Regions from separate parts of the Homo sapiens genome. Here all the other regions are linked to region 4. The links come from fine-mapping of genetic effects on gene expression. A gene starts in region 4. Each other region holds a variant in brackets. All regions are shown on one strand. Distances are between the middles of the regions.

Evidence for each region. PIP is the estimated chance that this variant, and not a neighbour inherited with it, causes the effect. A credible set is the group of variants that fine-mapping cannot tell apart.
Region 1: its variant is the best candidate, but not a certain one, in a credible set for the expression of TSHZ3 in whole blood (TOPMed, PIP 0.60).
Region 2: its variant is the best candidate, but not a certain one, in a credible set for the expression of TSHZ3 in whole blood (INTERVAL, PIP 0.86).
Region 3: its variant is the best candidate, but not a certain one, in a credible set for the expression of TSHZ3 in blood mononuclear cells (TOPMed, PIP 0.77).
Region 5: its variant is the best candidate, but not a certain one, in a credible set for the expression of TSHZ3 in whole blood (INTERVAL, PIP 0.57).
Region 6: its variant is the best candidate, but not a certain one, in a credible set for the expression of TSHZ3 in whole blood (TOPMed, PIP 0.52).

The regions. Positions count from the first base shown.
Region 1 is chr19:31,242,047-31,247,119 of GRCh38, reverse strand. It overlaps a transcript of TSHZ3 not described here. Among named protein-coding and RNA genes, the nearest start is that of LINC01791, 77 kb to the right of the region's middle. The variant G/A (reference allele first, on the strand shown) is at 2,527.
Region 2 is chr19:30,790,720-30,795,792 of GRCh38, reverse strand. No RefSeq gene overlaps it. Among named protein-coding and RNA genes, the nearest start is that of LINC01834, 110 kb to the left of the region's middle. The variant T/G (reference allele first, on the strand shown) is at 1,894.
Region 3 is chr19:31,309,793-31,314,865 of GRCh38, reverse strand. The region is part of intron 1 of TSHZ3 (teashirt zinc finger homeobox 3); the gene reads left to right. Among named protein-coding and RNA genes, the nearest start is that of TSHZ3-AS1, 9.5 kb to the left of the region's middle. The variant G/T (reference allele first, on the strand shown) is at 2,590.
Region 4 is chr19:31,346,345-31,351,417 of GRCh38, reverse strand. TSHZ3 (teashirt zinc finger homeobox 3) reads left to right here and starts at 1,982. Exons shown (of 2, transcript NM_020856.4): 1 at 1,982-2,238. The coding sequence starts at 2,199. It overlaps TSHZ3-AS1 (TSHZ3 antisense RNA 1), which reads right to left. Exons shown (of 3, transcript XR_002958388.2): 1 at 2,501-5,073.
Region 5 is chr19:31,225,813-31,230,885 of GRCh38, reverse strand. It overlaps a transcript of TSHZ3 not described here. Among named protein-coding and RNA genes, the nearest start is that of LINC01791, 61 kb to the right of the region's middle. The variant A/TA (reference allele first, on the strand shown) is at 2,362.
Region 6 is chr19:31,391,654-31,396,726 of GRCh38, reverse strand. The region is part of intron 1 of TSHZ3-AS1 (TSHZ3 antisense RNA 1); the gene reads right to left. Among named protein-coding and RNA genes, the nearest start is that of TSHZ3, 45 kb to the right of the region's middle. The variant A/G (reference allele first, on the strand shown) is at 2,625.

The sequences.
Region 1 (5,073 bases), 100 kb after region 4:
AGGAAATTTTTCTAATTATAGTATTCCTTCTACATTTACTAATTGTCTTTCTACTGCAAGGAAGAGCTTTTCCTTCTTTTTCATTTATTTATTTATATCCATGTAACTGGTGAATGCTTATTTCATTCAATAAATCATGATTTTCAATCATTATTTATTTTTGTGCTAAATTTGCCTCATATTTGGCCAGTGGGAGTCTCTGCAAATTGGCTTCTTTGTCCTTTTGATATGTCCCTGTTATTCTTTGAGCATTTCCTTACTTTTTGGGACCAGAAGTTTCAGGCTCATCTTGTGCTTTCTCGGTTGCAGGCCTGCAATGACCATTTTGTAAGTGGCCCTGTCTTCTCTTAGAGGAGAATGACATAGAAAGAAACGCCTCCATGCTAAGTATGCTCGTTGCTATTGGAGTTCCATTGCTTCCAGGTCCTCTGTGCGTATGCATATGAACAATTTCTTTATCTCTCTCCTTCTCTCCCCTGACCTCCCTCACTCTCTCTCCCTTCCTCCCTTCCTCTGTCCCTTTTTAAACCATGAGTTTTTACTTATAACTTCAATTTCAATCCAGCACCTTAGGGCTTATTCTGTCTCCTCCTCCCCTTTCCAATTTTATACTCCTTTCTCCAACAATGAGAAACCTGGCTTTGAATGACTATAGTATATTTATTTGTTTGTTCAGTTGTTGACTATTCATAATTATTTTATGTCAGCTATTTTAATTTTTACTGTCAAATTTATGTGAATTGCACAAGTAATACATGAACACATTCTTTTTAAAAATGATTTTAAATACAGGTAAGAAAGATTGTATCCTCCACATTCACCCATACCTTCAGGTCTAATCAATATGATCAATTTGGTATGAATCTTTCCAGACATTTTTCTGAGCCTTATACACCCACAGAAATTAGAATTGTAGTGTTTTGACTTATTTTTATATAAATGATTTGATAGTGTATATTCTGATTAGCAACATACTTTTTTAAATTTAAAAAAAACAAACTCTTGGAGACTTTTGATGTTGTGACATGTCGATTCACTTCATTGCAGCTTAACTCGAGATGCTGAACAATAAGAGAAGTCTCTGAGGTCTGAATACTATTTTAGCATGCCTCATCTATGGAATATCATGTAGTACTTAAAAGGAATGCCCAGCCATTTCATGCACATCAGCAAATACATCCCTAGAGTTGCTGCAGAGAAGTAGGATTGTTGGGACTTAGGACGTTTATATTTTCTAGTTAAATAAATATTACAAATGGATTCCAATGTGGCTGCACTGGGGGCCACACTACCTGCAATGAATGCTGAGTGTCTTCTTGGGCACCACAGGATGGGTTGTAACAGCCCCTACCACTCCGTCAGAGGCAGGGAATGCACTCTTGAGACTGCAACTATCTTGAAGCATCCAGCTTTGTATGGAGACCCCATGTAATCCTCTGCAAGGCTGGTGGCTGACCAGGGCTCTATCAGGTCTTACAGTACAGGAGCAATGATTTTCACATGTCCAGAGCTCCCATCTGATAGTGCAGTTGTCAGATGTAGCTTGTGTTTTAACTACACAGAAGCATTCTGTTACCAGGCAGAAGAACCTTCTGCGTGAGATTTTGTGTTGTTTTGTTTTGAATTTTGTCTATTTTAAAGATAGGCTGGAGGAGATAGGGGTGACCTGAAACCTTGTAAGCATCAATATTTCTTTTAAGAGCAGCTTCTTGTTTCCTAGTCAGATTCATATGAGCAATAGCCCCCCTATCTTTTTTGCCATTTTCCTTCCACATGAGTCCTGTGCACATTATCTTATTTTAGTTCCTTGCCTATCCAATGAGAAGGGTGAGACAAGTTTTTCCCATTTTTCAGCTTTCTCCTACTTAAGGTTGCACAGCAAATGTTGGGGCCTGGACTCAAATCCAGACCCCAGACTTTAACTCCAACATTTTTTCGTAAGTAAGATTTTTGTTTATTGTATACTGACTTGCAACAATTGAAAAATATAGAATATTATAATAAAGAAAAAAATAATAAATCACCAACAATCAACACTATCATCCAGAGATAATAACACTGTGAATATTTTCCTATATACTTTATACATACATAACAAATTACATAGAGTATTTATTTGACTGCTTTATATTGTAAGCATTTTCCAATGATATTAAATTTTCTTTATAAGATTTTAGGCAAGGAGCAGTGGCTCATGCCTATAATCCTAACACTTTGGGAGGCTGAGGTGGGCAGATGTCTTGAGCCCAAGAGTTCAAGACCAGCCTGGGCAAAATGGTGAAAACCTGTCTCTACAAAAATTTCAAAAATTAGCCAAGTGTGGTGGCATGTGCCTGTAGTCCCAGCTACTTGGGAGGCTGAAGTGGGAGCATCACTTGAACCCGGGATGTCGAGGCAGCAATGAGCTGAGATCATGCCTCTGCACTCCAGCCTGGGGGACAGAGCCAGGCCATATCTCAATTAAAAAAAAAGAAATGATTTTGAATGACCGTATACATATCCCATTATGTGGATAAATCACAATTT[G/A]GGCAATCTTCCATATTTGGATGTAGGCTAATTTTATACTGATATACTTTATAGTAGTCCGTTCCCTCACAGCTGTAAAGAAATACCTGAGAGTGGGCAATTTATGAGAATTTCTTATAAAATTTCTTATAAAAGTAGCTTCTTGTTTAATGACAGAGGTTTAATTGGTCACAGTTCCTCAGGCTGTACAGGAAGCATGGCTGAGTAGGCCTCAGGAAACTTTCAGTCATGGTGGAAGGCAAAGGGGAAGCCAGCATGTCTTACATGGCCAGAGCAGGAGGAAGAGAGAGAGTGGGGAGGTGCACACACTTTTAAACAACCGGATCTAATGAGCACTCACTCACTCACTATCAAGAGAGCAGCATGGGGAGGAAATCCGCCCCCAAGATCCAATCACCTCCCACCAGGCCCCACCTCCAACACTGGGCATTACAATTTGACATGAGATCTGGGTGCAGACACAGATGCAAATTATATCATACACTGTCATTGTTATATATAAAGTTTCAAATAACATCCCTGAATGCAAATATTTAACTATATCACTGATCATTTCCTTGGAACACAGACCTAAAAATGGAGAGAAATCCCAGGCCAAAAGTTATGCACATGTTTTAGGTTCTTAATACCTAAAGCTCAAGTCTACTTTAAAAAGGCCTTGCTGATAACCACCCTCAGGGTAGAGCAACCACAGTGCAAACCGCCCTCCTCCAAGTGTATTCCACATGAGAAATCATGATTTGATATTGTTACATCAAGTTTCCAAATGCAGATGAGGAAAACAGAGTCAGTGAGGTTAAATAAGCTTCCTAAGGTCACAGAGAGGGGACCCAGCTCCCATTCCCAGAGCTCGATGAACACCACTCCGCTGCTCCCCCATATCATCTGAACAACCCTGACCTTGGCAGGGGAGGCACGGAGCCCCCGAGGATGGTATCCTGTGTCGGTGGGACATGCATCTGCCCCCACCCCCTCTGCTTCTGCTATTTGAGAGGACTCATCCCATATGCAGGCGGCAGGGCGGTCACCACTATAATACCAGCCTGCCGGGCTCACCTCCCTCTGACACGGGAAAGTTCAGGGCATTATATGATATAGGATACCATGCATGGGTTGGTGTGATACAGTGGGACCCTGACTACACAGGGGTGAGTGGATGGATGATAGTTAGGAGTGACTATGGCAAAAATCCCACAGACTTGTTTTAAGTGAAGTCTGTAAGTGTGTAACAGTATAATTGTAGGTTGAGTTACCAACATGGATTAGAAATGACTAGGGACCAAGCATGGAATTGTGCCAAGGTCAGACTAAGGAATTTGGGGTTGTAGTTCTTCTAAGTGCAGTGGAGAAAAAAAATCCATCAATGACAGGTATGAAGTACTATACTTCTCTTAATCCATATAAACAGTCAGTAGTTATAGCTACAGATATATGTGCATCTTTCCTTTCATTGAAGGCTTCAGACAGGTTGGTTTAGGAGGGTGTGATGGTTAATTTTAGGCATCAACTTGACTGGATTAAAGGATATCTAGATAGCTGATAGAGCATTATTTCTGGGTGCATCTGTGAGTGTATTTCTGGAGGAGATTGGAGGGTGAATTGGTGGACTGAGATGGGAAGATCTACCCTCAATGTAAGCAGGCACCATCCAATCTGCTGGGGTCCCAAATAGAACAAAAAGGCAGAGGAAAGTTGAGTTTGTGCTTTCTCTCCCCTAGAACTAAGGCACCCATCTTCCGCTGACTTTGGACATCAGAGCTCCAGGTTCTCTCTCCTAGAACTGAGACACCCATCTGCTGCTGCCTGTGGACATCAGAACTCCAGGTTCTCTCTGTTAGAACTGAGACGCCCATCTTCTGATGCTTTTGGACATCAGAGTTCCAGATTATCTCTCCTAGACCTCAGACATACATCTGCTGCTGCCTTTGGACATCAGAACTCCAGGTTCTCTCTCGTAGAACTGAGACACCCATCTTCTGATGCCTTTGGACATCAGAACTCCAGATTCTGTTTTCTAGACCTGAGACACCCATCTGCTGCTGCCTTTGGACATCAGAACTCCAGGTTCTCTCACGTAGAACCGAGGCACCCATCTTCTGCTGCCTTTGGACATCAGAACTCCAGATTCTCAGGCCTTTGTACTCTAGGATGTGTAGCAGCAACCCCTGCCCCAGGTTTTCAGGCCTTTGGCCTCAGACTTCAAGCTACACCTCTGGCTTCTCTGGTTCTGAGGCTTTTGGACTTGGACTGAGCCATGCTGCAGGCATCCCTGGGTCTCCAGCTTGCATATGGCCTGTTGTAGGACTTCTCAGCCTCCATAATCATGTGAGCCAATTCCCTTAATAAATAGCCTCTCACTTATCTATCTATGCATCCTATTGGTTCTGTCCCTCTGAAGAACCCTGACTAATACTAAAGCTGTCTTCTGGAAGGGACAAATTTTAAGTGAAGATTCAAAGACCAGGGCTGCCATATGTGAGAGGAAAGTCACTGGCTAAGTAGAGAAGTATGCATTTCAAAAATATGCCTAAAAATCCACTGAGGAAA
Region 2 (5,073 bases), 560 kb after region 4:
CCGGGTTCCCAGTGTCCTCCTAGTGGTGGAGGGCTCACTGCCCATTGACCCCAGCTTTTCTCTGGTGCTGAGAGGGAAGAGGCCTTCATGTTCTAACACAGAGAGACCTGGAAAAGGCCAGTCTGTTCAAACCCTGGGACCACTCCCATGGACCCAGAGACCTGTAGGCTAAGAGGGTGAGAGAAACACATGGCAGAAACATGACTGCAGTTACAATATGCTGTCTGTTGTCCTCAGCCCCTGCCTCTGACTCCCTCAAACACAAGGAGTACAGTACAAGGCCCCATACTAGGAAAGGGAGAAAATTGGTGAGAAAATTCTGGCCCTTGTCCCCAGAAATTCTAAGGAAGTTAGACCATTAACCAAATACAGCGTGATGGAATTGGGTGGAAAAAGAGCTGATCTTCTGAGATGCAACTGGGGTGGTGAGGCATTCCAAGAAGGCTTCCTGGAGGAAGTGTCATCTAAGCTGACTCCTGAAAGATGAGTGAGTGTCAGGCAGGTGAAGAAAGGATATGTGAGGGAGAGAAGGGGAGAATAGGGCCAAAAAGGGGACCCTGCAGGCTGGGAGCCTAATCTTGTCATCATCAATCAAGCCACACCCAAGCACATATGGAGTACATGTGGTTTACCTGGTATCTCGCACAGAAATGGGAAGAGTAGCCCTGACCACCTGCAGGGAGCTCCCAACCAGCTAAGGCAAATGCTTCCCATAAAGAGAGGTGAAGAGGCCGGGCGCAGTGGCTCACTCCTGTAATCCCATCACTTTGGGAGGCTGAGGCAAGTGGATCACCTGAGGTCAGGAGTATGAGACCAGCCTGGACAACATGGTGAAACCCTGTCTCTACTAAAAATACAAAAATTATCTAGGCATGGTGGCTCATGCCTGTAATCGAAGCTACTTGGGAGGCTGAGGCAGGAGAATCGGCTGAACCTGGGAGGCAGAGGTTGCAGTGAGCTGAGATTGTACCCCTGCACCCCAGCCTGTGTGACAGAGTGACTGTCTCAAAAAAAACAAAACAACAACAAAGAGAGGAGAAGAGTTAGGAGGGCTGTCTTTCTGCCTCAAAACTTCTCAAAAGCATAAATGAAGCTGCCTTCCCCTTTTGTTTCCAACTTAAAACCAGAGTTACCACCACCAACAACCGCTTCTTTTGCTGCACCTGGATTCATTGCTGCTACTTTTCAAACATCTCTGCTGCCCTGGGAGGAGCTCGTTGAGCAGCTGGCTTTCCTGGGAGAGATCCACTGGCTCCTGCTCCACCACAGTGACCATGCCTCTTCTTCCCTGCCCAGCCCTCCTCTAACCTTACTTGAGGATGGTGAGGAAGCAGACAGAGGACGTAAAAGCAAGACCAGAAAGGGGCTGGCACCTCCGTTCTCTAGAATTGAGATCCTCCAGATAACACACAATGATTGTGGAAAGAACTGGCAAATTAAAGATAGTTGGTATTGATTCCAAAAATACTTTTGCTTTCAGCAAAATACATCTTTAATTACTTTTCTACTAGCTGTCATTTTTCATAAAGCAGTCTAGACGACTCGTGCCAAATCCTGCAAAGACTGTTTTCAATGAAATGCTTTTTCTTAATATCAAAGATCAGAGAGGGGTTGAAAAATCTCTTCATATGTGAAGTTTAACAAATGCCTAGAAAACTTGTCACACATTCAGGATGGACAGACTCCTATGCTCCCATTGTCATCAACAACTGGTGAAAACACTACCTGCAATTTTCTTTTTCCATCTTCTCATCTCTTGTGAGCTCTTCCATGTGATGGTCTGGGTAAAATATGTACATTTCTATGCAAATAGTATGCATGTTATTTTTGCTTTTTCGCTTTTGTTGGTAATGTATTATCCATAGTTTGAAACTCCCTTTTCCCCCAAGCAGT[T/G]TAATACAAAGACCAAGATAACACCTCTACATGTACACATACAGCTGTAGAAAATATGTAATACTGGACCAGTTCTTTTTTTAATCTTTATTTATCAGAAGTAAGCTGAAATACAGCAAGGCAATGAAAATAATTCAAACATGTTCCCCCCTATAAGTTTGACTAGAAATGACAAAGACAAGTTGAGAATTAGGAAAAGGAACTGTAGCAAAAATTCAGATTTAGCTCTCAGCATCAGAATCAATGTCCAACTCTAAAATTGATATAATTGACTGTTAATTAATTCCCTTGATATTTTCATTAACACTTGGGAGTAACAAGTATTCTATGTAGCATTTCTGAATTATTCACGAGGCCCTCGGATTCCCTAGCAAAGGTGGCACATGATTGATGCCACTCTCAAGAAAGGAGTTAAACTCAAGGTTTCTTTCCATCTGGCTGCACCTTAGTAGGTAAAGAATTGGCAACAAAAGGGAGGGGTGCAGCCAGCAGGGCAGAGGTGTCTCACGTGAGGCTGCAGCTCCCTGCCCCAACCCCCTTCTCTGCTTCTTGCTTCCACAGGCACTCAGCACTCTGGGTGGTAGGTCTGGGCCCCTACCCTTAAATCTTCGGGATCCAGGACCTCCAATGATTACAAAGATTGGCAAGAAATCCTCACCAAATTATGGCTGCAAAATGCATCCAAACCACCACAATGTTCAAAGCTTAGAAACTCAAGTCTTGGAGAAGAGAGAAGTAAGATAAAGTTCAGCGTTAGATTTTGGAAATCTCAGGGCAGCACAGCAAATATCCCTGCAGTGTGGACAGGAGCTCTCCCTGAAGCCATCATCCTCCCAGGCCACTCCCTGCCTCAGCCCCTCCCACATCTTCCTTAGGCACCAGCCTAAGGTGCTCACTGGCCCAGCCCACCACCTGAGTGTGGCGTGTGTGTGTTCAACCCTCTCTCACCCACATCCACTTTTCATCCCCCACTACCTGTGAGCTCCTAGAGCACCCTCTACCTGACTTGAATGAACATCAAGGGGCCAAGCCATGATTGTATATAATTCTAACTATTTGGTTCACCTCCATGAACATGTTATACCTCCGGCCAAGGTGAGCTGTTTGTTCCTTATGTTCAGAAGCAGTAAGAGCATGGGTGACCAGGGAATAAAGCTGACCTTCCAGCCCTGAACACAGCTTCCCAGGGATAGATTATGGGCCAGTGAGTACCAGGTGGACAATCACTTTATCTCACTCCAGCCTGACAATTCCCTTCTGTGCATGGGCCACCAAAGAGCACCCCAACTTCCAGCAGACGATGCCTAACTGCCCTCAGCAAATGATACAGGGCCCAGGCTCCCAGAATCCAGGACTTAGGGTCCTACTCAAACCAACTCCAGGTGCCAAGAATGGCCTGGGACATCACGGGCAAGACCGGCCCCCATTGCCTGTCCTTTTCTTCCAGTTGAAACAAAGATACTTATCTGTGATGTGAAACCTGGGACAACAACCTCCTATATCTGGCCATTTCAAACAAAAAGGCATATTAGTCTCTGCACTATAAAAAATAATACAAATTGTCTTAAGGACAAAATAAAGAAAATGTCATGGGGATATGAGAATGATTGATAGGGCCATGACCTTCAATATGTTGAGGTCCCTTCAAAAGAGTTCCAGTTTGGGATTTAGGGTAGAGCCCTAGCGTACGCACCTCCATGCTTGGAGACCCAAATTCATTCAGCAAAATAGGGGTTGTATCCTTCAAACTGATAGATGATCTGGCTGCAGTGTCCCCGCCTGGAACCTTCTTGGAGTTCCTTATGTCAGTCTGTTTTCATGCTGCTGATAAAGACATACCCGAGACTGGGTAATTTATAAAGAAAAAGAGGTTTAATGGACTCACAGTTCCACATGGCTGGGAGGCCTCACAATCATGGTGGAAGACAAAAGACACTTCCAACAAGGCACCCAGGTAAGAGAGAATGCAAGCCAAGTGTAAGCAGAAACCCCTTATAAAACCATCAGATCTCGTGAGACTTATTCACTACCATGAGAACAGTGTGGAGGAAAACTCCCCCATGACTCAATTATCTCCCTCTGGGTCCCTCCCACAACACGTGGGAATTATGAGAGCTATAATTCAAGATGAGATTTGGATGGGGACACAGCCAAACCGTATCACCCCTGGAAGGGCAAAGAATTCAGAGGGAGGCCCGGCCTCTCTTCCCCTTGTGACATTTCTCAGACAATGGATGCTAGAGAAGGAGGGCAGAAGGGTAGGACTGTTTTGCTAGAAAAAGAAATCACATTCCGTGATCTCTATTGTTTATTGGAACTTAAAAAATAAGTTTTAAAAAAAGGACTCAACAAAATAAACTGAATAAAGTCAAATGAAATTCAGTTCAAGCTTAGGAAGTGCTTGTAAGTAAACATCATCAACCCTCCTTTGACAAGTGGCTTTCCATCACCCGGCAGCCCGAGCGGTGGCCTCGGGATGGTGGCCTGATTGTCAGCTGACAGATGAGGGACAGATCTGCTTGTCGAGAAGCCAGCGGATTGCCCTCGAGTTGTTTGTAATGACAGGAGACAAAGAATGGCTGCTGAGAGTGATCTCTTGTTTTACAAGCTCGGCATCAGGAGAGAGCCTGGTCCTGGAGCCCACTTGGGGGAATGGCCCTAACTGGACACAGCCTCCTCGGGCCACACTCCACCTTTGGCAATTTGCACACCAGGCCAGCTCGCTCCCTGTCATGTGCGTTCAAATAAATACTGTAGTAAAAATGATAAATCCTTTCTGCCTTATGAGTCACCGCACTCCCCGCTCTGAGATTTCTGTCTTTTATTGTCACTCTGAAACCATTTCCAATCATTTTTTGCATTTGATCTCGATTGTCTTAAAAAATTAATCAGACACATGTTCACTATGTTTTTATCCAACTGTCTCCAGAATGTTTTTCGACAATTTAGAAAAATGTTTTGAAAAATAGTAAAGGGAAATATTTAAGTAATTATGATCCTCACATTGCGGGGCCAAGTGAAGTAAACTAATGCAATGGAAACATGTTTTACAGATTTGTTTAATTATTTTTAAGTACAATGAAACTGCATTGCTCTGGGGGAAAGATTTATAATCTGGGCCTTCTCTGACACTTACCTCTTTAGGGACTGCATGCCTCACCAAAGGGAAAATGCCTGGGC
Region 3 (5,073 bases), 37 kb after region 4:
TGAGCTGAGCCTTCCCCTGGAGCTGTGCCCCCAAATTCCTTCCCCTTCTTTTTATTTCACTGCCTGCTCTTCCAGACAGCCCCGGAGGTGGACACTCAAGGGGTCTGAGAATGACGGTGATTACAGAGCAAGGTTCATCCAAACGGTTAATTTCTCCCATTCTGGCTACAAAGTTAATTAATGTAATCTAACGCATCTTGAGGCAAAATTATGCACTCACATATGAATAAAACCCTGATCTATTGCAAAATACGAATCTGGCACTCGGAACAATTCACAATCACTCAAATTACAAGTTATGCACAAGAATGTAGTATCACAAGGGGATGTGAAATCCTGTCATTAGAAATGATTCACAATGCATCAGAAACCCGGCCCTGAGAAGGTTGGGCAGAAGGAGGTGAGCAGCCAGATAGCTGGGATGGACTTGTGCAGAAGCAGGGGTGCAGGCAGAGCCCCACCGTGCAGGTGAGACACGGTTCCGGCCGCTGCCCATGTGGCTTCTCAGGATTGCAGTGATGGCCGACCATGCCTCCCTGCCGCCCGCTCTCTCTCCCATGGCTCTGGAAACACCCTTGCCTGCATGTAGCAGTGCTTGGCAAAGGAGGCTGGCATGGCTGGGGCCTGGCCTCAGCATCTCTCGTGCAGACTGTAGGGAAAGAAGGCCTCTAGTCCTGGCCTTAGAAGCCGGAAGGAGGCATCCTTTCTGGTTGTCTAGGGGACAAGGGAGGCAACCCTGTGTCATCATGTCATCATCATCCACCAAGCATCTTCCAATTGCATCCGGTGAGCCCAACAGCCACTCGAGAGGCAGGCACGAGGGGGTCTGACCTGCCTTTCCCAAATGTGGACCTGGGAAGCAGGCAGAGAGAAAGGCTCACCGTCATTACCCGAGATGAAGGTATTACCTGATTTACAAGTGAAATTCTGTGGCGCAAAGACTTCCAATTGTGTGCTGCAGGTTGCAGCCTGGTAAGTGAGTGTCGGTGCCAGGATGCAGGTACCCGGACTCTCAGTGCCATACCCTTCTCGATAATACCCCACTTCTGGTAGTGCATGGCTATGAAAGGCTTGGCTCCGATGGGGCCTTTCTAGGGCAAGGAGCAGGGATCCTTCAAGTCCCAGGATCCTTCTCGTTTGCTGAATGGCTACGGCCATGCATTTCGTTGTTCAGGGGACTCTCACCAATCTGTCCAAACTCAGGGTGAATTCACATGTCACATGTCGCTGCCTGTTTCCTGGGTGTCTGGGAGAGGTGGATGGGCCTCACCCTCACAGAGGCACTGGCATATGTGTGGGGACAGGAACCATTTCCGCAGCCCAACAGGCAGGTGGTACGCAGTGCCAGGAGCGTGGCCACCCTAGTCCCTGCCAGGTGCCCACATCCGCACGTGGCAGGCATGTAGCTCAGACTCCTCGCTGCCCTCCAGCGGTGCACACTTGGCTTCCAGCTCCCGGTCAGCAGCCAGGCATGGGGGCCATCGTTCAAAGGTGGAGCATCCTGTCTGTGATTGATAATGGCTCACTGCAAATTTTACATTTTTATTAGCATATTTATGAACATTGAGGTTTAATAACCACTACCTCCTCCAACTGGACATTCAGAGGTTTTAATAGAAACCTGACAAATTCCCTTCCAAATCTCGGGTGTGGAAATGCTAACAGCAAACGCTGGTAGCAGAGCAAAGCCCTCACCTGGGGCTTCCCGCAGAGTCTCCTCTGGAAGCCTCTGTGACTGTTCCTTGCCCCCAAGCAGGTTTGGCATCCTGAGTCCCAAACCTGTCATGCTGTTTGACGTTTCTGCATACCACATGCACTGCCTGAACTTACTGTTTACACACGTTTTAACTCAAATAAATTTATTTTTAAAAGGAAAGTGTGTCACTCCTATAAATGAAGACCCAGAATCACTTGCCATAAAGGGAAAATAACCATAAAAATAAACGCCGTGAAATCAAACAATGTCATTAAATCCTAGCTGAATTCTCTTGCCTTCCTACCGGAGTCTAATGCCTTATCTCTCTTCTTTAAAAAGGGGGATTAGCAAGTGTTGGGGAGGTGTTAAAGACCAATAGCACCCACCGGATACTTTCTCCTTGAAGCAATCAGAGGGAAAAAGATGGAACTGACAAGGGAGTAATTTATTACCGTGTGATTCAAGATGAACCACCTCATATTTTCTTGTACCACCGGTGGAACTCCTCCCACACTCTGAAAGATTCTGGATTTCAGCGAACACTGACTTCGATTAACTTCCCAAAGGGGCCCTGAAAGCCCCAAAAGGGTTAATAACTGTTTCTGTAGGAAAGTGTCTTTTCTAAAGAGGAAGAGAGAGGACATTAGGAAGCCAAGGGGTTCAGGAAGCAACAGGAGAAGTCCCCTCCAGCCAGCAATGGAGTGTCCTGCTCTGATGGGAATTTGCTGCCCTGAGCTGTCCGATAGGACTACCCCATCGGAAGTGTGATGAGTGCAATGGAGGATCTGAACTTTACATTTTGTTTAATTTTAATTAACTTAAACATATATAGCCCCATGGACAACACAGTCATTAGCCCCATGGACAGCATAGCTCTAGATCCTTCTTTTGTG[G/T]TTCTGTGCTTATTTCTCTGACCTAAGCCAGCATCTGCTGATTCATAGTTTCCAGCCGTGGGAGGGAAGATGGGCCTCTTCTCAGCAGTGGTGTGCACAGCACAGAGCAGCCTGCAAAACACTCTTTTTGTCCAGTGCTCCTCTCCTAGCAACCCTGGGAAACATTGGTGTCACCATGCCTGTTTTACAGATGGGGAAACTGAGACTCAAAGGCCATGACATGGAGAAGCCAGGATTTAAAGAGGAGTGGCTTGGCCGGGTGCAGTGGCTCACACCTGTAATCCGAGCACTTTGGGAGGTTGAGGCGGGCGGATCACTGGAGGTCAGGAGTTCGAGACCAGCCTGACCAATATGGTGAAACCCCATCTCTACTAAAAATACAAAAATTTGCCAGGCGTGGTGGCGCACACCTGCAGTCCCAGCTACTCAGGAGGCTGAGACAGGAGAGTCCCTTGAACCCGGGAGGTGGAGGCTGCAGTGAGCTGAGATAGTGCCACTGCACTCCAGCCTGGGCAACAGAGAGAGACTCTCTCAAAAATAAACAAACAAATAAAGAGGGGTGGCTCTGCTCAAAGATCTCTCACCCTAACAGTGAATGGACCCTAAACGGGATTCTCATCTTCCAGTCCTCATGTTCCACCCATGCCCCCTGAGCATTGATCAGTATGGAGCCCGTGAGCTGGGCAGAGGGGCAAGTTCCCTTCACAGTGCAGCACCTTCTGTCCTCTGCTTCATCTCTGCATGTACTGGAGGACTCCGTAGGACCAAGACGTCTCCTTCCCATAAGGAACAAACCCTGTGCAGTCGGAGGCCACAGGCGAGACTCACCCCAAGAAGGTCCTGTGACAGGAGGCAGGCCAGAGCTCAGCAGCACATTGGCACCTATTTTGTTTCTCTCTTTCCCAGCTTCTCCTGCCTCCCCAGACACGAATGCTCTTGATCTGTCCTAGGATTTGTTGGGGGTGAGTGGGCTATAGGGGAAGTGCTGATGAATAAATCCACAACCAAAGTGTTAGGTGGATTAATAACCCCCTTCAGCCTTCAGACCCCTCCATCCCAACTTGCTTGAAGTTTATCTGCTTTTTATAAGAGTATCTAAAACAGGGCAGTGCTTAGCCCAGAGTCTGTCTGACTTGCTACTGGTGAAACCCTTGGCCTGAGACGGAGAGAGAATTTTGGGTGGCTGAAAGCCTTTTGGCTGCCACCTTACCAGGTGGCACCACCTCCCTTCCTGGTCTCAAGAGGCTGAGCTGATGGCACAGGCAGGAGTTTCCTGGACATTGCATGATCCTTCCAGCTGCAAGGGTGGGGCCCAGTGAGGGGCTGAAATGTCGCCCTAGAGATCCTGGCCTTGTCACTGCAGGAATCTTCCTTGCTGATGGAAAATTCTAATTTCTGTAACCCCAAAATAACTGTTCTTTACTGAATGCTTGCCACATGCCAGGCATGGTGCTAAGTGCTTTATGTGCATAATTCCATTAACAACAATTCTTAAAAGAGAGGACTTTCATTCTCATTTTAAAGGGAAGAACCAGAAACGTAGAGAGGTTTTGTAGCTTGCTCAAGTCCTGCTGTGGCTCAGGACAGAACAGAAGATGGACCTAGGCCTGTGAGGTCCTAGTGTCCTTTCACATTGTGACTTATGCATCACACAGAGCCCGCACTCTGCCCACCCCTTTCCCTGCATTCATTCTGAATTCTGTGCCTGAAGGAGGAATGTGGCCTCCAGCTTGTCATAGATTGGTGGAACTGCATCTCCTTTAAGAAGGTGGAAGGGATTCTCTCCTGAGCAGTGGGTCCCTGAGTTCATCCATTCATCCATGCAGCAGATACTTGCAGACCACCCTGGACACCAGTGCACAGGATCGGTGCTGCACCAAAAAGAAAAGGAAATGCATGTGGAATGGCCCCCAAACCCTCACATCTTCCTAGGAAGATGAAGGAAGACTGTGGTTTTTCTCCTCTAATCTGCCCCACACTCTTTGCTTTGGGTCACTCGACTCTTCATCTTCACTTCTGGTCCATTGAGAGGCAGCTTGGAGGAAAGAGGCTCATTACCTGGGACCAGAGTAGGGAAGAGACATGAGAAGGTTGAGACACCGAGTGGAGGCTTAGCAGATGGGGCAACATGACAACATAATGAATGGGCCCCACAGTTCCAGGGATGGGAAGGAGATGTCGCTCAAACTCAAGGAAGGAAAACATACTTGCATGCATTTTCCCATCATCACAAATTCCTCCGAGGGCACCAGGCTACTGGAGTATGTGTTGAAACAATTTGAGCAGATGTTTATTAAGCACCTGCTCAAGCCAGTGCTGGCAGGTGCCAGGGACACCAAGACAGGCAGTCCTCAAGGGGGTTGGAGTGTGGAGGATGAGACTCAGATGCACGTAATTCTGACGTGGGTACCATGATGGAAATGACCGTGAGCAGGATGGGAACATGGAGAGGGATGCCGTGGCCATCCCAGGGGGTGAAAGAAA
Region 4 (5,073 bases):
GCGCGGAAAGGCGCTGGAGGCGGCTTTATAGCCGGGGAGGCCAGCGGCGGCGCATCTGCATCCTGGGAGACGTCTGGACCCAGCCCAAGCCCGCAGGCTGGGCGAGCGGAGACTTTTGATCTTACCGTGTGGGTGAGATCACTGTCTCCCGGTCTAAAAGAAAAGAAAGCATGCTGTGAACTTTTGAAACAAACTTGCAAAAACAGTCGTAGAGAAAAAATAAAAAGGACACAGGGCAGAAAAAGAGGGAGAAAGAGACTAAAAAAAGAAAAAGATAAGGGGAGGGGGAAGGAAGGAAGGAGAGAAGGAGGAAGAAGTCTGGGGTTTGCTGCTCCAGGAGCGCTCAGGCAGCCGGTGCTGGAGCGCGGGGCGCCCGCCCTCGCCGGGACTGTCGGCCTCGGGGCCTGCGAGAGCGCCAGAGCCCCAGCCGGCGCGCCCGGGCGCAGGGCCGCCTCGGGGATAGTGGGCCCGGAGGCCGCCCCCGCGCTCCAGCAGCCGCCGCCCGGCAGCGCCCGGAGCCGGCCCCGGCGCGGCCGCCCCATTCCCGGCCTGAGAGCTGGCCCAGGGAGACGCAATCGAGCCCGCAGCGCATCGATGCGCCGCCGCCCGCGCCGCTCGGGCTCCGGCTCCCGCTCAGCCGCCGCCGCCCGGGGGTCGCCCGCATGAGCTCCGGCCCACCCGCGCCCTCACCGCCGCCCGTAAGTGAGCCCGCGTCGCCCCGCCGCCCACGCCGCCCAGCCAGCTCCTTCTTGCCGCGGCCAGTCGGCCGGGCCGGCCCGGAGCCTCAGCGACCCCGATCACCAATCAATAATCAATCCCTCTAGTCCAGCAGCCCCGGCAGGCCGGGCGCGGGACACGGCGCGGCGGCCCCCTAGGCTCTCGGGGGGAGCCCCTGGCGGGGGATGGGCAGGGGAGCCCGGTTTCCTTCTCCCGCCCCCGTCCCGCCCTAGGATCGGCCCGCGCCGTGGATGGGGGGCGCGGCCCGGCTCCCGGGGGCGAGGGGCGGGGTGGAGGGACCCTGATCATCCCAAAGTCAGGAGAGGAAACTTGAAGGAACCCCCTCCCACACCGACCCCCGGGACGGGCCCAGGAAAGTTTGTCCGGGGAAAAAAAATTGGGGGAAGTGGCTACGGCGGGTCCTGGGGGAGGAGCTGGGTGGCGCGGGGTCTGAGGGCTGCCCCCACCCGCCCCGGCCCGCGCCCGCCTCCTCCCTGGAGGGGGCCTGCCCGTGGGCTCTGGCTTCCCCGGGGGACGCCAGCCCCGGCCCGGGGACCACGCTGGGGGCTCCGGAGTCGGCGGGTGGAGAGGAGTGCGAGCCGGGTGGGGCAGCTGGGGGGTGGCTGGGGACGAACGCTGGGTGGGAATAGGGGTGGGGGGTAACGAGCGCCCCGGGACGGGCTCGGCGGGGCTGGCGCCGCGCCCCCGCGTGTGCGCACGGGGCGGAGGCGGAGGGGCGGCACCCCTTTCGCTGGCGGGGCGGGGGTCCCACGCGGGCCTGGGGCCGGGGGCGGGGGCGCGGCGCCCCCGCGGGCGGGCGATTGACACGATCATCTCCTTTTCCTTTAAGCTTGCCTGTTGCCGACGCCGCCGCTCCAGCCGCGCCACGGGCAGAAGACTGGACCGCCGAGCCCCGGGCCGCGGCGGCGGCTGCGCGTCCCCCCGGATGCCGTGACCCCCGGCCTAGGGGCGGGGGCCGGGGCAGTACCGGTCCGGGCCGCTCCCGCGCTCCTCCTCCCACCGCTCTGCCCGCCCTCTCCCCGCCCCCCAGCCCCGAACCCCGCGCACCTCGTCTGGGGACGGGGCGGGGGGGGGCAGGGCCGCCGCTCCTCCCCGCCCCCTCCTCCTCTGGCCTCTGGAGCGATTTGTCAAACTTCCCATTCCGCCGGCAGCGCGGTCCTCCTCCTCCTCCTCCACCTCCTCCTCCTCTGCCTCCTCCTCCCCCCCGTGCTCCTCCCTCCCCGAGCCTCCCTCGCCCGCCCTCCTTCTTCCCTCCGCACGTTCGGGGTTCGCGGCGGAGCGCGGCGCGGGGGGGACGCGGAGAGCCTGGGCGCAGCAGCATCCTGCGGGCGGCCGCTCTCCGGGGGGGAGGCTGAGAGCAGGCCCGCCTCGCCCCCCCGCGGGCCCGCCGCCCCCTCCCTCCCTGTCCTCAGCCCGGCAGCGGCGGCGGCGGCGGCAGTGGCAGTCGCCGGAGAAGCATCATGCCGAGGAGGAAGCAGCAGGCGCCCCGGCGCGCAGCAGGTACGAGCCGCTTCCCCTTCCTTCTGCTCTCCTCCTCCTCTTCCTCCGCTCGCCCCGCGCCTCCAGCGGGCGCGACCCCGCTCCTCGCCCCGCTCTTCTGCCCGCACTGAGTAACTCCGGGCGCCGCTCTCCTGTTTGGGTGCGTGCGCCCGCCTCGGGTACCGGGCGCCCCCCGGACGCCCCGCCGCGCTCTGCCCTCTTCCCTCTCGCACCCATTTGGGGAGCCGCTCGCGGAGCGCGCTGAGCCGCGCCAGGTCCCTACCTCCTCAGCTCTCCGGCTGCAGAGGGAATGGGAAGCAACCCCGGCCTGGCTCTTTCTGTGGGTGGCGGGCGGGGTCACCTGAGTTCCCCGGGACATCTTCCGCGTCCTCCGAGCGGCCGACCGCCGGGGGACTGCCTGGTGTCCGCCGAGCCAGGGAGCGCGAACGAGTGAGCGAGCCGGTCCCCTCGGCCACCTTAGTACTAACACGATTGATTCCTCATTTCTTGGGCCCAAACTGGGCACAGCGGTGGAACCCGGAGCGCACAGGGTCTGGGTATTGTCAGATGACTGTCAAGTCCATGTTAGATGCTGGCGTTTCCTTCTCCCCTGTTTGTGTTTCCTCGCCCCCACCCCCTCCTTGTACTGCTGCTCCCACCCTCATCTCCGCATAGCACTTAGTTCTGGGACGTGTCTGAGTACTTTTTTGTTCCTCCTTTTTTTTTTTTTTTCTTCTTCTTTAACCGGGAGTGTCAACTCCTGTTAAGACTGAGCCGATTTTTTTCTTTTCTTTTCTGGAAAACGCATCATTGAAAACAAAACAAAAACCACACACATAACATTATTTTGCAATAATGTCGGTTGGGGGCATGTTGCCTGGAAGAAGGGTTTCTGGCCCGTTGCCATCCTTGATTTGATGACTGATTGATCGCCCGTCATGCTGCTGCCTTTGATCTATTCATTCCCAATAAACATCAATAAATCACTTGCAATAGTGAGGCCAAGCTCTGTGACGTCAGGAGGGCCCTGTCAGTGCAACTTTGGGATTTGGGGCGGATTGCCGAGAGGACCACATATGGACGTGATGTATTTTGATATGAGTAACACTCAGATGTGCAGAGGTTCAGATGCTCCCTGAAGGGGAGGGTTAAGTGGGGCTTCCTTTCTTTTCTTTTCTCTTCCTTTCTTTTACTTCTCTTTTGATGTTAAGAGGGAAGGGCAGAGAGTAGGGTCAGGGCATTGGCTGGTGCCCATCTTGGAGGAAGGCGTTGTAGCCATGGTGCCCTGAGTGCCCATAATTTCCATCATGCCAGCCGGCACTGCCAGGGGACCTCACACGTTGGCTGCACTCTGCACTCCAGACCCCTTACACGGGGTCACAGAGAAGGAATGATAATTCTCTCTTCTCCCAGAAATGTACTTGCCTGCCAGTGTCTTCAGAAAATCTCAGAAGAAAACAGGGTTGGTTTGGGGCTTAGGATGCAGGTTTTGCTCTCTGTCCTCGGTGTTGCCCAAATTTAGAAAGTTTGAAAATTCCAGGAGTGATTGTAGGGAGCTTGCCGCCTCCCTAGTTAACCTCCTGGAGCTTGCTTCTTGCCCGTCCCACCTTCTACTTTAAATTCCAGGCTCAAGCAATGAGCTTATCTACCCAAAATAAACTCTGAAACTTTGGAGGAATCCTTCACAAAGTTGAGTAGTAGGAATGTCTTGGGCTTCTTCCAGTCTTTGAAATTTTTTTTTTCTTTCCTTTTTGGATACACATTTTAAGGTATGTGTGTGCCTCCATCCAATGAACCATATGTGATTACATCTTTACATTTGGTTCAGAACTCTCTCTCTAGTTCATCTCTTCGGTTGCACCCTGCCAATCTGAGACTCGTATTTGATAGCTTCCTCCAGAAAAATATCAGAGGAGGAGGGAACCTGCTGTTGGCTTTATTTATTTATTTATTTATTTATTTTTAGAGCAACCTGTTCACTAACCTTTTCACACTTTTTTTTTTTTTTTAAAGAAAGCCAGCCAGGAAATCTCAGGTCAGTTAAGAAAAATTCATTATATAAAAAACTTGACTGCAGGACTAATAGGAGATGGAAGAATGGTTTTGCTCTATCAAAATGACCCGTCAAAACGACTTTGTTTCATATTTGATTTAATTGTCTCTCTCCTGACAGGCACATTCATCAATAGCTTAATGGTCAATCAGAAGCTGGCAGCATGAGTGCTTTATTTCTTTCCCATACTCGGGTTTTGGATTTACTTTATCAGAATGCCTCTGCCTAATGGACATGTGGAGGAGGGGGTGGAGGCGGACTGAAGAGCTACTTATTTAAGAAGAGTGGAGAGAAAAAAAAAAAACTCCACATTTAGGCTGGTGATAAGTATGCACAGAGGTTTTTTTTTTGGGGGTGGTTTGTTTGTTTGGATGGACCAGAAACTTCCCATTTTTTTCTCCTCTTTTTTAGTTTTCCCAGCTGCAAGTTATAAGGTTCATGCCAGCTTTTGTGGCATACTGGGAGTGATGACAAATTGATTGCTTTGTACTGATAGAGAGAGAGAGTGGGGAAAAGAAAGATGTCTGCTGATTGGTAACTGGAAATCCAGTCCCCAGCAACCTTGAGAATACTCGAGAATTTTTTTCCCCTCCAAACTGAAAGGTCCGCTCAGCCATAAAAAAAGAAAAGTTGTTTTGCCAGCTTCATTAGTGTTCACCTAATTAGCTGTAAACCTGATGGATTCCTGACAGCTTTAATGATTGGAGATGACAAGCTCGACGCAGTGTCATCCAGCAGAATTAGGTTTGCAGCTAGTTTGATGTAATCAAGTTGATATTACACAGTCCTGGCTGCCTTTAGTT
Region 5 (5,073 bases), 120 kb after region 4:
CTAAAAATACAAAAAAAAATTAGCCGCGCGTGGTGGCAGGAGCCTGTAGACCCAGCTACTTGGGAGGCTGAGGCAGGAGAATGGCATGAACCCGGGAGGCGGAGCTTGCAGTGAGCCGAGATTGGGCCACTGCACTCCAGCCTGGGCAACAGAGCAAGACTCCGTCTCAAAAAAAAAAAAAAAAAAAAAAAAAGCAGTGATGGGAAGCAGGGGTAGTGATGGGGCTGCTGACTCCAGGACCGTGGCCCTGAGAGGTGGGTTGTCTTCTCCTAGCTCAGCTGCATTTAGGTCTGACCACTTTCCCCAGCAATTCCCCAGTTTTTGGCTGTAAGAATTTCCCCGAAAAAGCTTCCTGAAGACCATTTTTTGATACCTGACTTCTCTGCAGGATTTAAATAAAAGTTAATGTTTTTAAGAATCTTGTTACAAAAAGTAATACATTTTTATTGCAGAATATTTGAGGAATAATGAAAATCACCAACACTTTTGCCGCCCAGAGATAATCACTGATAACTTTTTGGTTATCCTCTTAAAGTCTTTTTCTATGCATATATTTACATACATACATTTTTTAAAAACAAAAAAATGAAATGTACAGATGGGTTTGCAACTTTTTTCCCCATTTAACTATATATTGTGAACCTTTTCTGAAGTCACTACATAATTCTCAGTATGATTTTTTTATGACCTTGGATTATAATGCACCATACTTTATTTAAGCAGCTGCATATTTTCAGACGTTTATTTTGTTTTTAATTTTTTGCTTTTATAAACAACCTTCCAGGGAACATTTTTAAATAAATTTCTGCAGTTATTTATGATTATTTTCTGAGGATAAATTCCTAGAAGAGGAATTGCTGGGTAAATGAACTACACATATTTTAAAGAATTTTGCCAAGTTACCCTCTAGAACAATTGTATCACTTTAGGATCATCCTAGCAATCTGTGGGTGCCCATTTTCCCAGGCTCTACATAATCTTTTCTTTTTTAGAAAATGTCAGTGTAATAGCTGAAAAATCGTGTTTCACTATTGTTTCAGTTTGCACATCTTTGACAGCTTGCAAAGTTAAACATTTTTCATATTTTTGCTGTTAGTACTTCCTTTGTGAATTTTCTAATCATGTCTTTTGTCCACATTGACATTTCAGAGACTTAAGAATGTAAACCCTTTGTTACATACATTGCAAGTTTCTTTTTCCAGTTTCCTATTTGCTCTTAGATATAGTTATGGCAGAATATTTGAATTTACATGTGATCAATTTCATCAAGATTCTACTTTATGGTAATACACTACCTAAAAGATTTTCCCATTACAAGATCAGATAAACATGCACCTATATTTCCTTCTAGTTCATTTGTATATGTATTTTTAAATTTATAATCCGCTTGACATTTATTTTAGGATGTGGTGTGAAGCAGTGATGAATCAATTTATCTTTAGTGTTTCGCAGTTGTCCCCGCATCATTTCCCCCAGAGACTTGAAAAAGCTCTCCTATTATGGAATAGATTCTTAATGTTCTTTCTACCTGCCCATCCTTGGTCCAATAACATTCTATTTTAATTGTCGTAGTTTTAGAATCTATCTTAATGTCCTTGCAAATGTTTCTAATCTTTCTGTTTGGTCAAACTTTACTTGATTATTTTATTCATTTATTCTTCCAGACAACATTTAGAATCATTTTGTCAGGTTTCAAAGAAAACTTTATTAAAATTTGGATTGGAATTATAATAGACTTATACACAAATTGAGGCAATGGCCCCCTTACAATGTTTAGTCTTCTCTTTCAGGAACATGCATGCACCCCTCTAATTTTACCCTTCTCATATCTTCTTCTATAAAACTCCCTTCTAAAACCACTGGGTCAGGACAGCATCCCAGTCAGGTAGGACTAATATTACTGGACTCAGTTTCAATCAAATTTGGAACCCACAGGTCTGTTTTGAGGAAGGAGGAGATGGAGAGAGGTTAGGATCTAAGATTAGAGTGGCGAGGTAGTGCATGCCCCTCCTTTGAGAACACTCACTTCCAGGAAGGTTCTGTAGGAAACTTCAAATACCAGGGTCTACAAATGACCCTGCAGTCACTGACCCATGTACAATCCTTCTGTGCAGGCTCTGCTTAACATCCTGGCAGCATTGGTAGAGATTTTTATTTAAAATCTGAACACCACTCTCTGCAATCTGTCCATGGGAAGGTGCTAGTAACCTTCAGTGTTCAAATATCCCAGCTCAAGGAAGAAAGTTTGACCCTAAGCTTCTGATTGAAACACAATAAAGCAAATAATGATTGAAAAATAAGACACATATTCTTGGGAACCATGCTAATATTGTCTCTAATAATTTTTTTTTTTTTTTTTTT[A/TA]GACAGGGTTTCACTCTGTCACTCAGGCTGGAGTACAGTGGTGTGATCTCAACTCACCATAACCTCTGCCTCCGGGGCTCATGTGATCCTCCCCCCTCAGCCTCTGGAGTAGCTGGGACTGCAGGCACACACCACCATGCCTAGCTAAATTTTGTAATTTTTGTAGACATAGGGTTTCACTATGTTGCCCAAGCTGGTCTTGAACTCCTGGGCTCAAGCAATCTGCCCACCTTGACCTCCAGAAGTGCTGGGATTACAGGTGTGAGCCACCACACCCAGCCTGAAATAGAATTTGTATTGGTGAATTCAGGAATTACAAGAGCTTCAATAATGTCTTGAAGCTCTTAACTTAACTTGGCAATGCTCCCTCTACTCTCCTTGCAGCTCCCCAGTGAAGCATGGCCTTGTGCACCATAAGCAGATTTGAAGTTTAAGAAGATGACTCTAGATGTTCCACGGAGAATGTTAGGAGTGAGAATGGCCATGGGAAGACCCACTGGGAGGCTGTTGAGTTGCCCAGGTAAGATGATGGTTTTATGGACTTGTTGGGGGTCCGTGTGGATGGAGGGAAGGAACCAGAGTTTACACATATGTTGGTCATAAAAATAAACCAATAAGATTTCATGATGGCGCTAGAGAAGGGAAGATGTCCAAGATGATTCCAAGGTTTCTGGCAGAAGAAACTGGATGGTTGCTGAGATTTGAAAGGTGGAGTAGGAATAGATTTGGGGACAGCAGGGATAGGACTGCCTGGAGCTGAGTTCAAGGCATGCTTGTGTAGATCCTGGATGTCTTGTCATTAAGTGAGAGAAACCTACCTCCAACTTTACTGAGTGAAAAAGAAGAGTTTTGGGGTACGCAATATAAAGCCCACAGGTGGAACAGATTTTCAGCCCCTGGTGTTCAACATTGGCATTAGGGATCTCTCTCTTCTTCCCTCCCATCCTCTCTTTCTTCCCCCTTCTGTTGCTGTAAGCTGTGCTTTCACTGTGCTGCCTTTCTCTTCTAGCAGGCTCTCCCTAAGTTTGGTGGCAGAGTTGGCCCAGTCTCTTCAGGCTTCTATTCTATTCTACCAGCATAGCAATTCCAGTGAGAAAATAGGGTTTTTTTCCTCCTCAAATTGTGTCAGCAAAATTTGTTGGGTGTGAATGGTCTTGACCCACTTTTGACTCAGTAACTCTCTTTATACCAATCTGATTCTGGGTAGATCTGTCATATGACCAGACAATTTTGAAAAGGTATTTGGGCTAGGCGTGGTGGCTCATTCCTGTAATCCCAGCACTCTGGGAGGCTGAGACGGGTGGGTGGCTTGAGGTCAGGGGTTCGAGACCAGCCTGGGCAACATAGTGAAACCCCATATCTACTAAAAATACAAAAAGTTATCCAGGCATGGTGGCACAGGCCTGTAGTCCCAGCTACTTGAGAGGCTGAGGCACAAGAATCGCTTGAACCTGGAAGGCTGAGGTTGCAGTAAGCCGAGATGGCACCACTGCACTCCAGCCTGGATGACAAAGAGAAATTCCATCTCAAAAAAAAAAAAAAAAAAAGAAAGAAAGAAAGAAAGAGAAGAAAAAGAAAAAAGAAAAAGTATCTGCAAGGGATAGTTCTCTAAAAGCAAAAAATGAAAATAAGGAAATAAACAGATTGGACAGACAAATCACAGATGCCTATATCTGCTAATATATGTGACCTTAAAATTTATTGTCTAAGATGTTTTTGAGTCTGAAAGGGGTGCTGTGACTACTTATGCCAGGACACCACATGTAAATAGAGACTTCCCAGAGCAAATGAAGACATATGGTCACCTTATGTCTTGAACACAGGGTGTTCAAGTAGAGATGTTGACTTGTGGTTGGTGCTCAGATGGAAGGCAAGAATGGAATATAGGATTTAGAGCGGTTAGCAGGGAAGTTCTGATGGAATGGTGTATTAGTCCATTTTCACGCTGCTGATAAAGACATACCTGAGACTGGGTAATCTACAAACAAAAAGTTGTTTAATGGATTCACAGTTCCATGTGGCTGGGGAGGCCTCACAATCATGGCAAAAGGCAAAAGGCACACCTTACATAGTGGCAGGCAAAGAGAAAATGAGAACCAAGCAAAAGAGGAAACCCCTTATGAAACAATCAGATCTTGTGAGACTTGTTCACTACCATGAGAACAGTGTGGGGGAAACCACCCTTATGATTCAGTTATCTCCTACTGGTTCCCTCCCACAACACGTGGGAATTATAGGAGCTACAATTCAAGATGAGATTTGGGTGGGGACACAGAAACCATATCAAATGGTATGGGAAGAAGTGGAATTGAAGGAGTCGAAAGAGTGGGTTGAAGATTGAAAGGAGGTGAGGAATTGGGGACAGCATCATATGGACACATTGCTTTTTTTTTTTTTTTAAGATGGAGTCTTGCTCTGTTGCCCAGGGTGAAGTGCAGTGGCATGAGGTTGGCTCACTGCAACCTCCATCTCCCGATTCCAGTGATTCTCCTGCCTCAGCTTCCCAAGTAGCTGGGATTACAGGTGCCCATTAACACACCCTGCTCATTTTTGTATTTTTAGTAAAGGCAGGGTTTCACCATGTTAGCCAGGATGGTCTCAAACCCCTGTCCTCAAGCAATCCACCTACCTTGGCTTCCCAAAGTGCTGGGGTTACGGGCATGAGCCACCGTGCCCAGCTGACACACCGCTTTTAAGCCAGATTGGGAAGGG
Region 6 (5,073 bases), 45 kb before region 4:
ACCCTCTCCCATCCCAATCCGCCATATATTCTGTATTATCATAATTATCTGTGGGTGTGTGGCCTTCAGGACATGTTCTTTGTATTTAGATGGAAAACGTACGGCATTGGTAGAAGACGAGGGACTGTCCTCCGTGCCATACTTGTTCTCTACATAAACATGACGTGGACACTTCTCTATTACTCAGAGGTAAACCATACATCTTGTGTCTGGTCGCTATGCACCATTTCCCTGTTGTGGGGCTGTCTGGCTAGTTTTGGCTTTTGATGTTTACTGCACCATACTATGGGAAGCATCCTTCCATGGGACTCATTGACTGTCGTTTTCTGAGAGTACACACCTAGTGTGGAAATGCTGGAACAGCAGAAGATTGGCACGTTTATAGCTGTGCTAGAGGTTGCCAACTTGCTGTCCTAAGGGCTTGTGAGTTGTGTGCACCCCTACCCAGTTCTCACATCCTCCCAATCCTTTATACTGTCAGATTCAAAAGTTTTGCCAATTTGGAGCCATAGAATGCTGTTTTAGTTCACACAGCATGGACCACTGGTGAAATCGAGCAGCTTTTATTTATTGATCATTGGCTTTTCTCTAAGAAGTCTTAGCCTTGACCTGTCTTTCTATTAGGTGTTTGTCTTTTTCTTATTTGTTTATGGTTTTCTGTGTTCACGCACACACGCACACATTCTAGACGCTGATCCTTTCAGTTTATAATGCCTCTGTAAGTCATATCTTAAAGGATTTTCTCCTTCTCCATCTTCTTCTCATCACCATTCTCCTCCTTTTTCTTCTTGGGAAAATCCAGACAACGTTGAAGAAGCATATTTACCTTTGGCACATTCTGGAAACTTCTTTCTCATCTTACCTCTGTTCTAACATTTGCAGCTTATGGAGCTAAGCAGCCTTTCTAATCTGTTTTCTTGAAGCTCTATGATTAATAAAAGCCATGAATTCTGATTATTCCAAAGGACAGGAATGTCATGTATCACCCCTGCCCACATATCTCTGGTGTGCAAGGCACATGTGACTAATTCATCTGAAAACTCCCTCGTCCTAAGCCTTGTTCAGCCTCAGAACCCTTCTTAACAATAGTGGCCACCACCATGACTCGGTTGGAGTTGGCCTGTAAGAAAATCTATATGCTGTCACTGCCTCAGCTTAATCAAGTATGTTTTAATCATCCCAGTTAACAGGGGTTTCAAAGCCTCCCTACCTCACAATGATTAACTCATCAGAGTTTTCATTAAAAAGAAAATCTCAGCTAATTGGTTTGACCTCTCCATTTAGGAAAATGATAATAATAACAAGCTAACATTTATTGAGTGGTTAGTATGTGCCAGACAGTGTGTAAAATGCTTTACACGTATTTTCTCATTGAATCTGACAGCAGCTACTTAAGTGGAATGGTGTCATGTCACGGGAAAAAAGGCAAAAACAGTGCCTCTGCTGCTCTGAACTTGACCCTTTCCTCTCCTACGATGTGAGCTGCAAGAAGTCAGCTTTTCCTTCTGCCTGACCCATTATTATGTAGCATGCTTATCCTCTGATATGCTCAAAACGGACTGTGGCACAGTGAGCTTTCTTGTCTTTGCGGTCCAGAATGCAGATTGAAGATTGGTAGAGAAATGGTAGAAAGAGATTTCACTTGCAAAGTCCTGCTGCCTGTAGCTGATGGTGTGCCAACCAGATAGCCTTTAGCAGGCTGCAGTCCATGCACCTGACTTCTGCTATTAGGTTGGTGCAAAAGTAATAGTCATTACTTTGGCAAAAACCCTAAATCATTTCTCTTAATTCAAAGTGTCACAAATCTCTAGGGCAGGGGCAAAATGTCACCAGTCTCTTTGTGAAAACATATCAAGAGTCACCCTTGATCCAGTTCCCAACAAGTTCCTCATCTCCAGCTGAGACCACCTCAGCCTGGATTTTATTGTCCATATCAGCATTTTGGGCAAAGCCATTCAACAAGTCTCTAGGAAGTTCCAAACTTTCCCACATTTTCTTGTCTTCTTCTCAGCCCTTCAAACTGTTCCAGTCTCTGCCTGTTACCCATTTCCACATTTTTGGGTATCTTTTCAGCAACACCCCAATATACTGGTACCAATTTATTGTTTAGTCTGTTTTCATGCTGCTGATAAAGATATACCTGAGACTGGGAAGAAAAAGAGGTTTAATTGGACTTACAGTTCCACATGGCTGGGGAGGCCTCAGAATCATGGCGGGAGGCAAAAGGCATTTCTCACATGGTAGTGGCAAGAGAAAATGAGGAAAAAGCAAAAGTGGAAACCCCTGATAAAACCATCAGATCTCGTGAGACTTATTCACTATCATGAGAATAGCATGGGAAAGACCGGCCCCCATGATGAAATTACCTCTCCCTGGGTCCCTCCCACAACACATGGGAATTGTGGGAGCTAAGATTCAAGATGAGATTTGGGTGGGGACACAGCCAAACCATATCACAATACATTCCAAAGGCCACCCAGAACCGGTTCTGAATTCTATAAGCCTGGCTCTCCCCTGGCCAGCACCTCAGTTTCCTAGACTGGCAGCATCCTGGCTGCGTGGGGTACTCATGTTCTCAGATACCTGAGTCCTTCTGATTTTTCCTGTTAACCTTGGGCCACATC[A/G]ACACAATATCTGGTGAAGTAGTTCTCTTGATAAATAAGAAACAAAACAACAAAAATCTAACTACAACAACCGTTGGGTATTTTTTTGTTCCATAGTTGAAATATCTAACTATCTTTGTTTTTAAAATGATTAGGCTTGGCCAAGTGCACTGGCTCACGCCTATAATCCCAGTGCTTTGGGAGGCACAGGAGGGTTGTTTGAGACCAGAAGTTTGAGACCAGCCTAAGCAATGTAATGAGACCCTGTCTCTACAGAAAAATATAAAAATTAGCTGGGCACTGTGGTGCATGCCTATAGTCCCAGCTACCTAGGAGGCTGAGGCGGGAGGATTGCTTGAGCCCAGAGACATGGAGGCTGCAGTGAGCCATGAATGCACCACTGCACTCCAGCCTGGGCAACAGAGTGAGACTCTGTCTCTAAAAATCAAACGAATAAATAAACAAAACACTATTAGGCTTTATTTAGTTATAAATTACCCAAATCACCACCTGAGTTCTCTCCCTTTGCTTTTACATATGTAAACATAACTTCAATACTAAAAGAGAATTTTTTTTTCCTTCTTCCTCAGAAATCCTACTAAAGTCAAGGGCAAAGGGCATCAGACTCATTTTTGATGTGAAGAAACCAAGTCACAGAGAGGGTGGCTTGCCCTTGAGGGCTCCATCTAGGAAACATCATGGGCCCATTAATATCTGGGTTGAAAAATCCCTTTCCCAGGCTGCTCTGAGCTCCCGTCTGAGCCTCTCTCCCCAGCCCCTCACTTCCCTGGGCCAGGAGTCAAAGCCTGCCCTGGAGTGACAAACGTGAAACCCCAGCTCTGCTCTGTCAAAAACCACTAGGGTCTGTCCTTTCCTCAAGGGCTTCCACTCATACACCCCAGGAGCTGGCCGAGCAGCAAGGCAATGTTTTCTGCCTTCCTTTCCATCTTGCCAGCTGCCTCCTGGACAGAGCTTTGTTTAACTCTCCCTGCAGTTCCCCTGGAAGACTGAAGAATTTGCAAAATGACCCCAGAACAGGGCTTCTAGTCAACTGGTCCTCTCCTACCCCTCACCTGGGGACAAATGCCATTTTTTAGAATTTCCTCCTGAGGTGGCAAACTAGCTAGAGATGAAGAGTCACACTGAGAAAGAAACCAAAGAGCAATTATTTAAAACCAAGTTTTCTCTCTCTTCTGCATCCATATTTGGGACAATGGCTCTCTTTCGGGAGGACAGATGATCCCTTAGCACTCAGGACTGGAATACCAGGCGAGAACTTCAAAATGGGAGAGTGCAGGAGGGAGGGAAGGCTCAATGGAGCATTTTCACATTGCAACAGGGTTGTTTCCAGGTTCATGTCAATTTATTCAGCAATCAAGAGCAATCCTCCTCACTTTGCCAAATGATGCAATAGTTCTCTCCCATTACAACAAGGAATGGGAGATGGTAAACAAACAGCATTACGACGTCACAAATCAATTTTATTGAAAACGTATTAGGTTTCAGTACAACTGAAGGATCAGACACCCAAGGAGAGAAAGGCAGGGGAGAGGAGACAGCGCACCAAGATTTACTTCTGAGTGCTACAAAATATTGAACTAAAAATAACATTAAAGATGATATTTGTAATGAATCTCAAGCTGCTAAATTCCCCAAGGCCGGTTCTGCCAAAGGCTTTGCTGCAATCCTCTGTTCTTTCTTGTCTTTATTTAAATATTTTATACAGTTGTCTATGTTCATGTGCAGTGTGAACTGTCATTTATATTTCAGTCCACTTTAAAATGGATCTGAGGCTACTTCAAGCTGAGCGCCGCACGGAGCGGGTCTGCGCGGAGAGGTAGGTTGGAATGCGGAGAATAAATGAAGATGGATCCTTAATGTACTTTTTGTGTACTTATATTTGCCTGTCATGTTTTCTGCCTTAAACCTGATTTGTAATTCTATGGGTTTTGTGACATTATGATAAGATGCGATCCGTGGAAAACTCACATTTAGCCGGGACGTTGATGGGCATTTGAGTTAAAGAGAGTGGTTGACGGGAGAGAGGCAGAATTCGGACCCTGCGGCTTAATGCTTAGTGGAACAACTTGCTTGGTCTGGAGCTGTAGTATTTCATGCTTTTCTATGCATTAGACTTTGCCAAAGTGAAATTTTGGAAGAATAAAACATTTCCAAGATAAATTCAATTTTCCCCCGTATTGAACTGAACTTTCTATGTCACTTAATGATGTAGGGGAGTTTGGGCAGAAAAGTGCATTTTGTTAGTTTGCACACCAAGGAGGTGGGTTGAGAGTAAGTCGGGAGGCCAAGTGTGAAGGTAAAGGAAGGAGGGCTGGAGTGGGAAACGTGGACAGCCCTGGAGGGTCCTCTCAGACTCATCCCACAAAAACGTGTGTGTGTGTGTGTGTGTGTGTTGTGTGTGTGTGTGTGTGTGCTGGGGGTGGGCATGGATCCCTGATAAAGTTCCGCA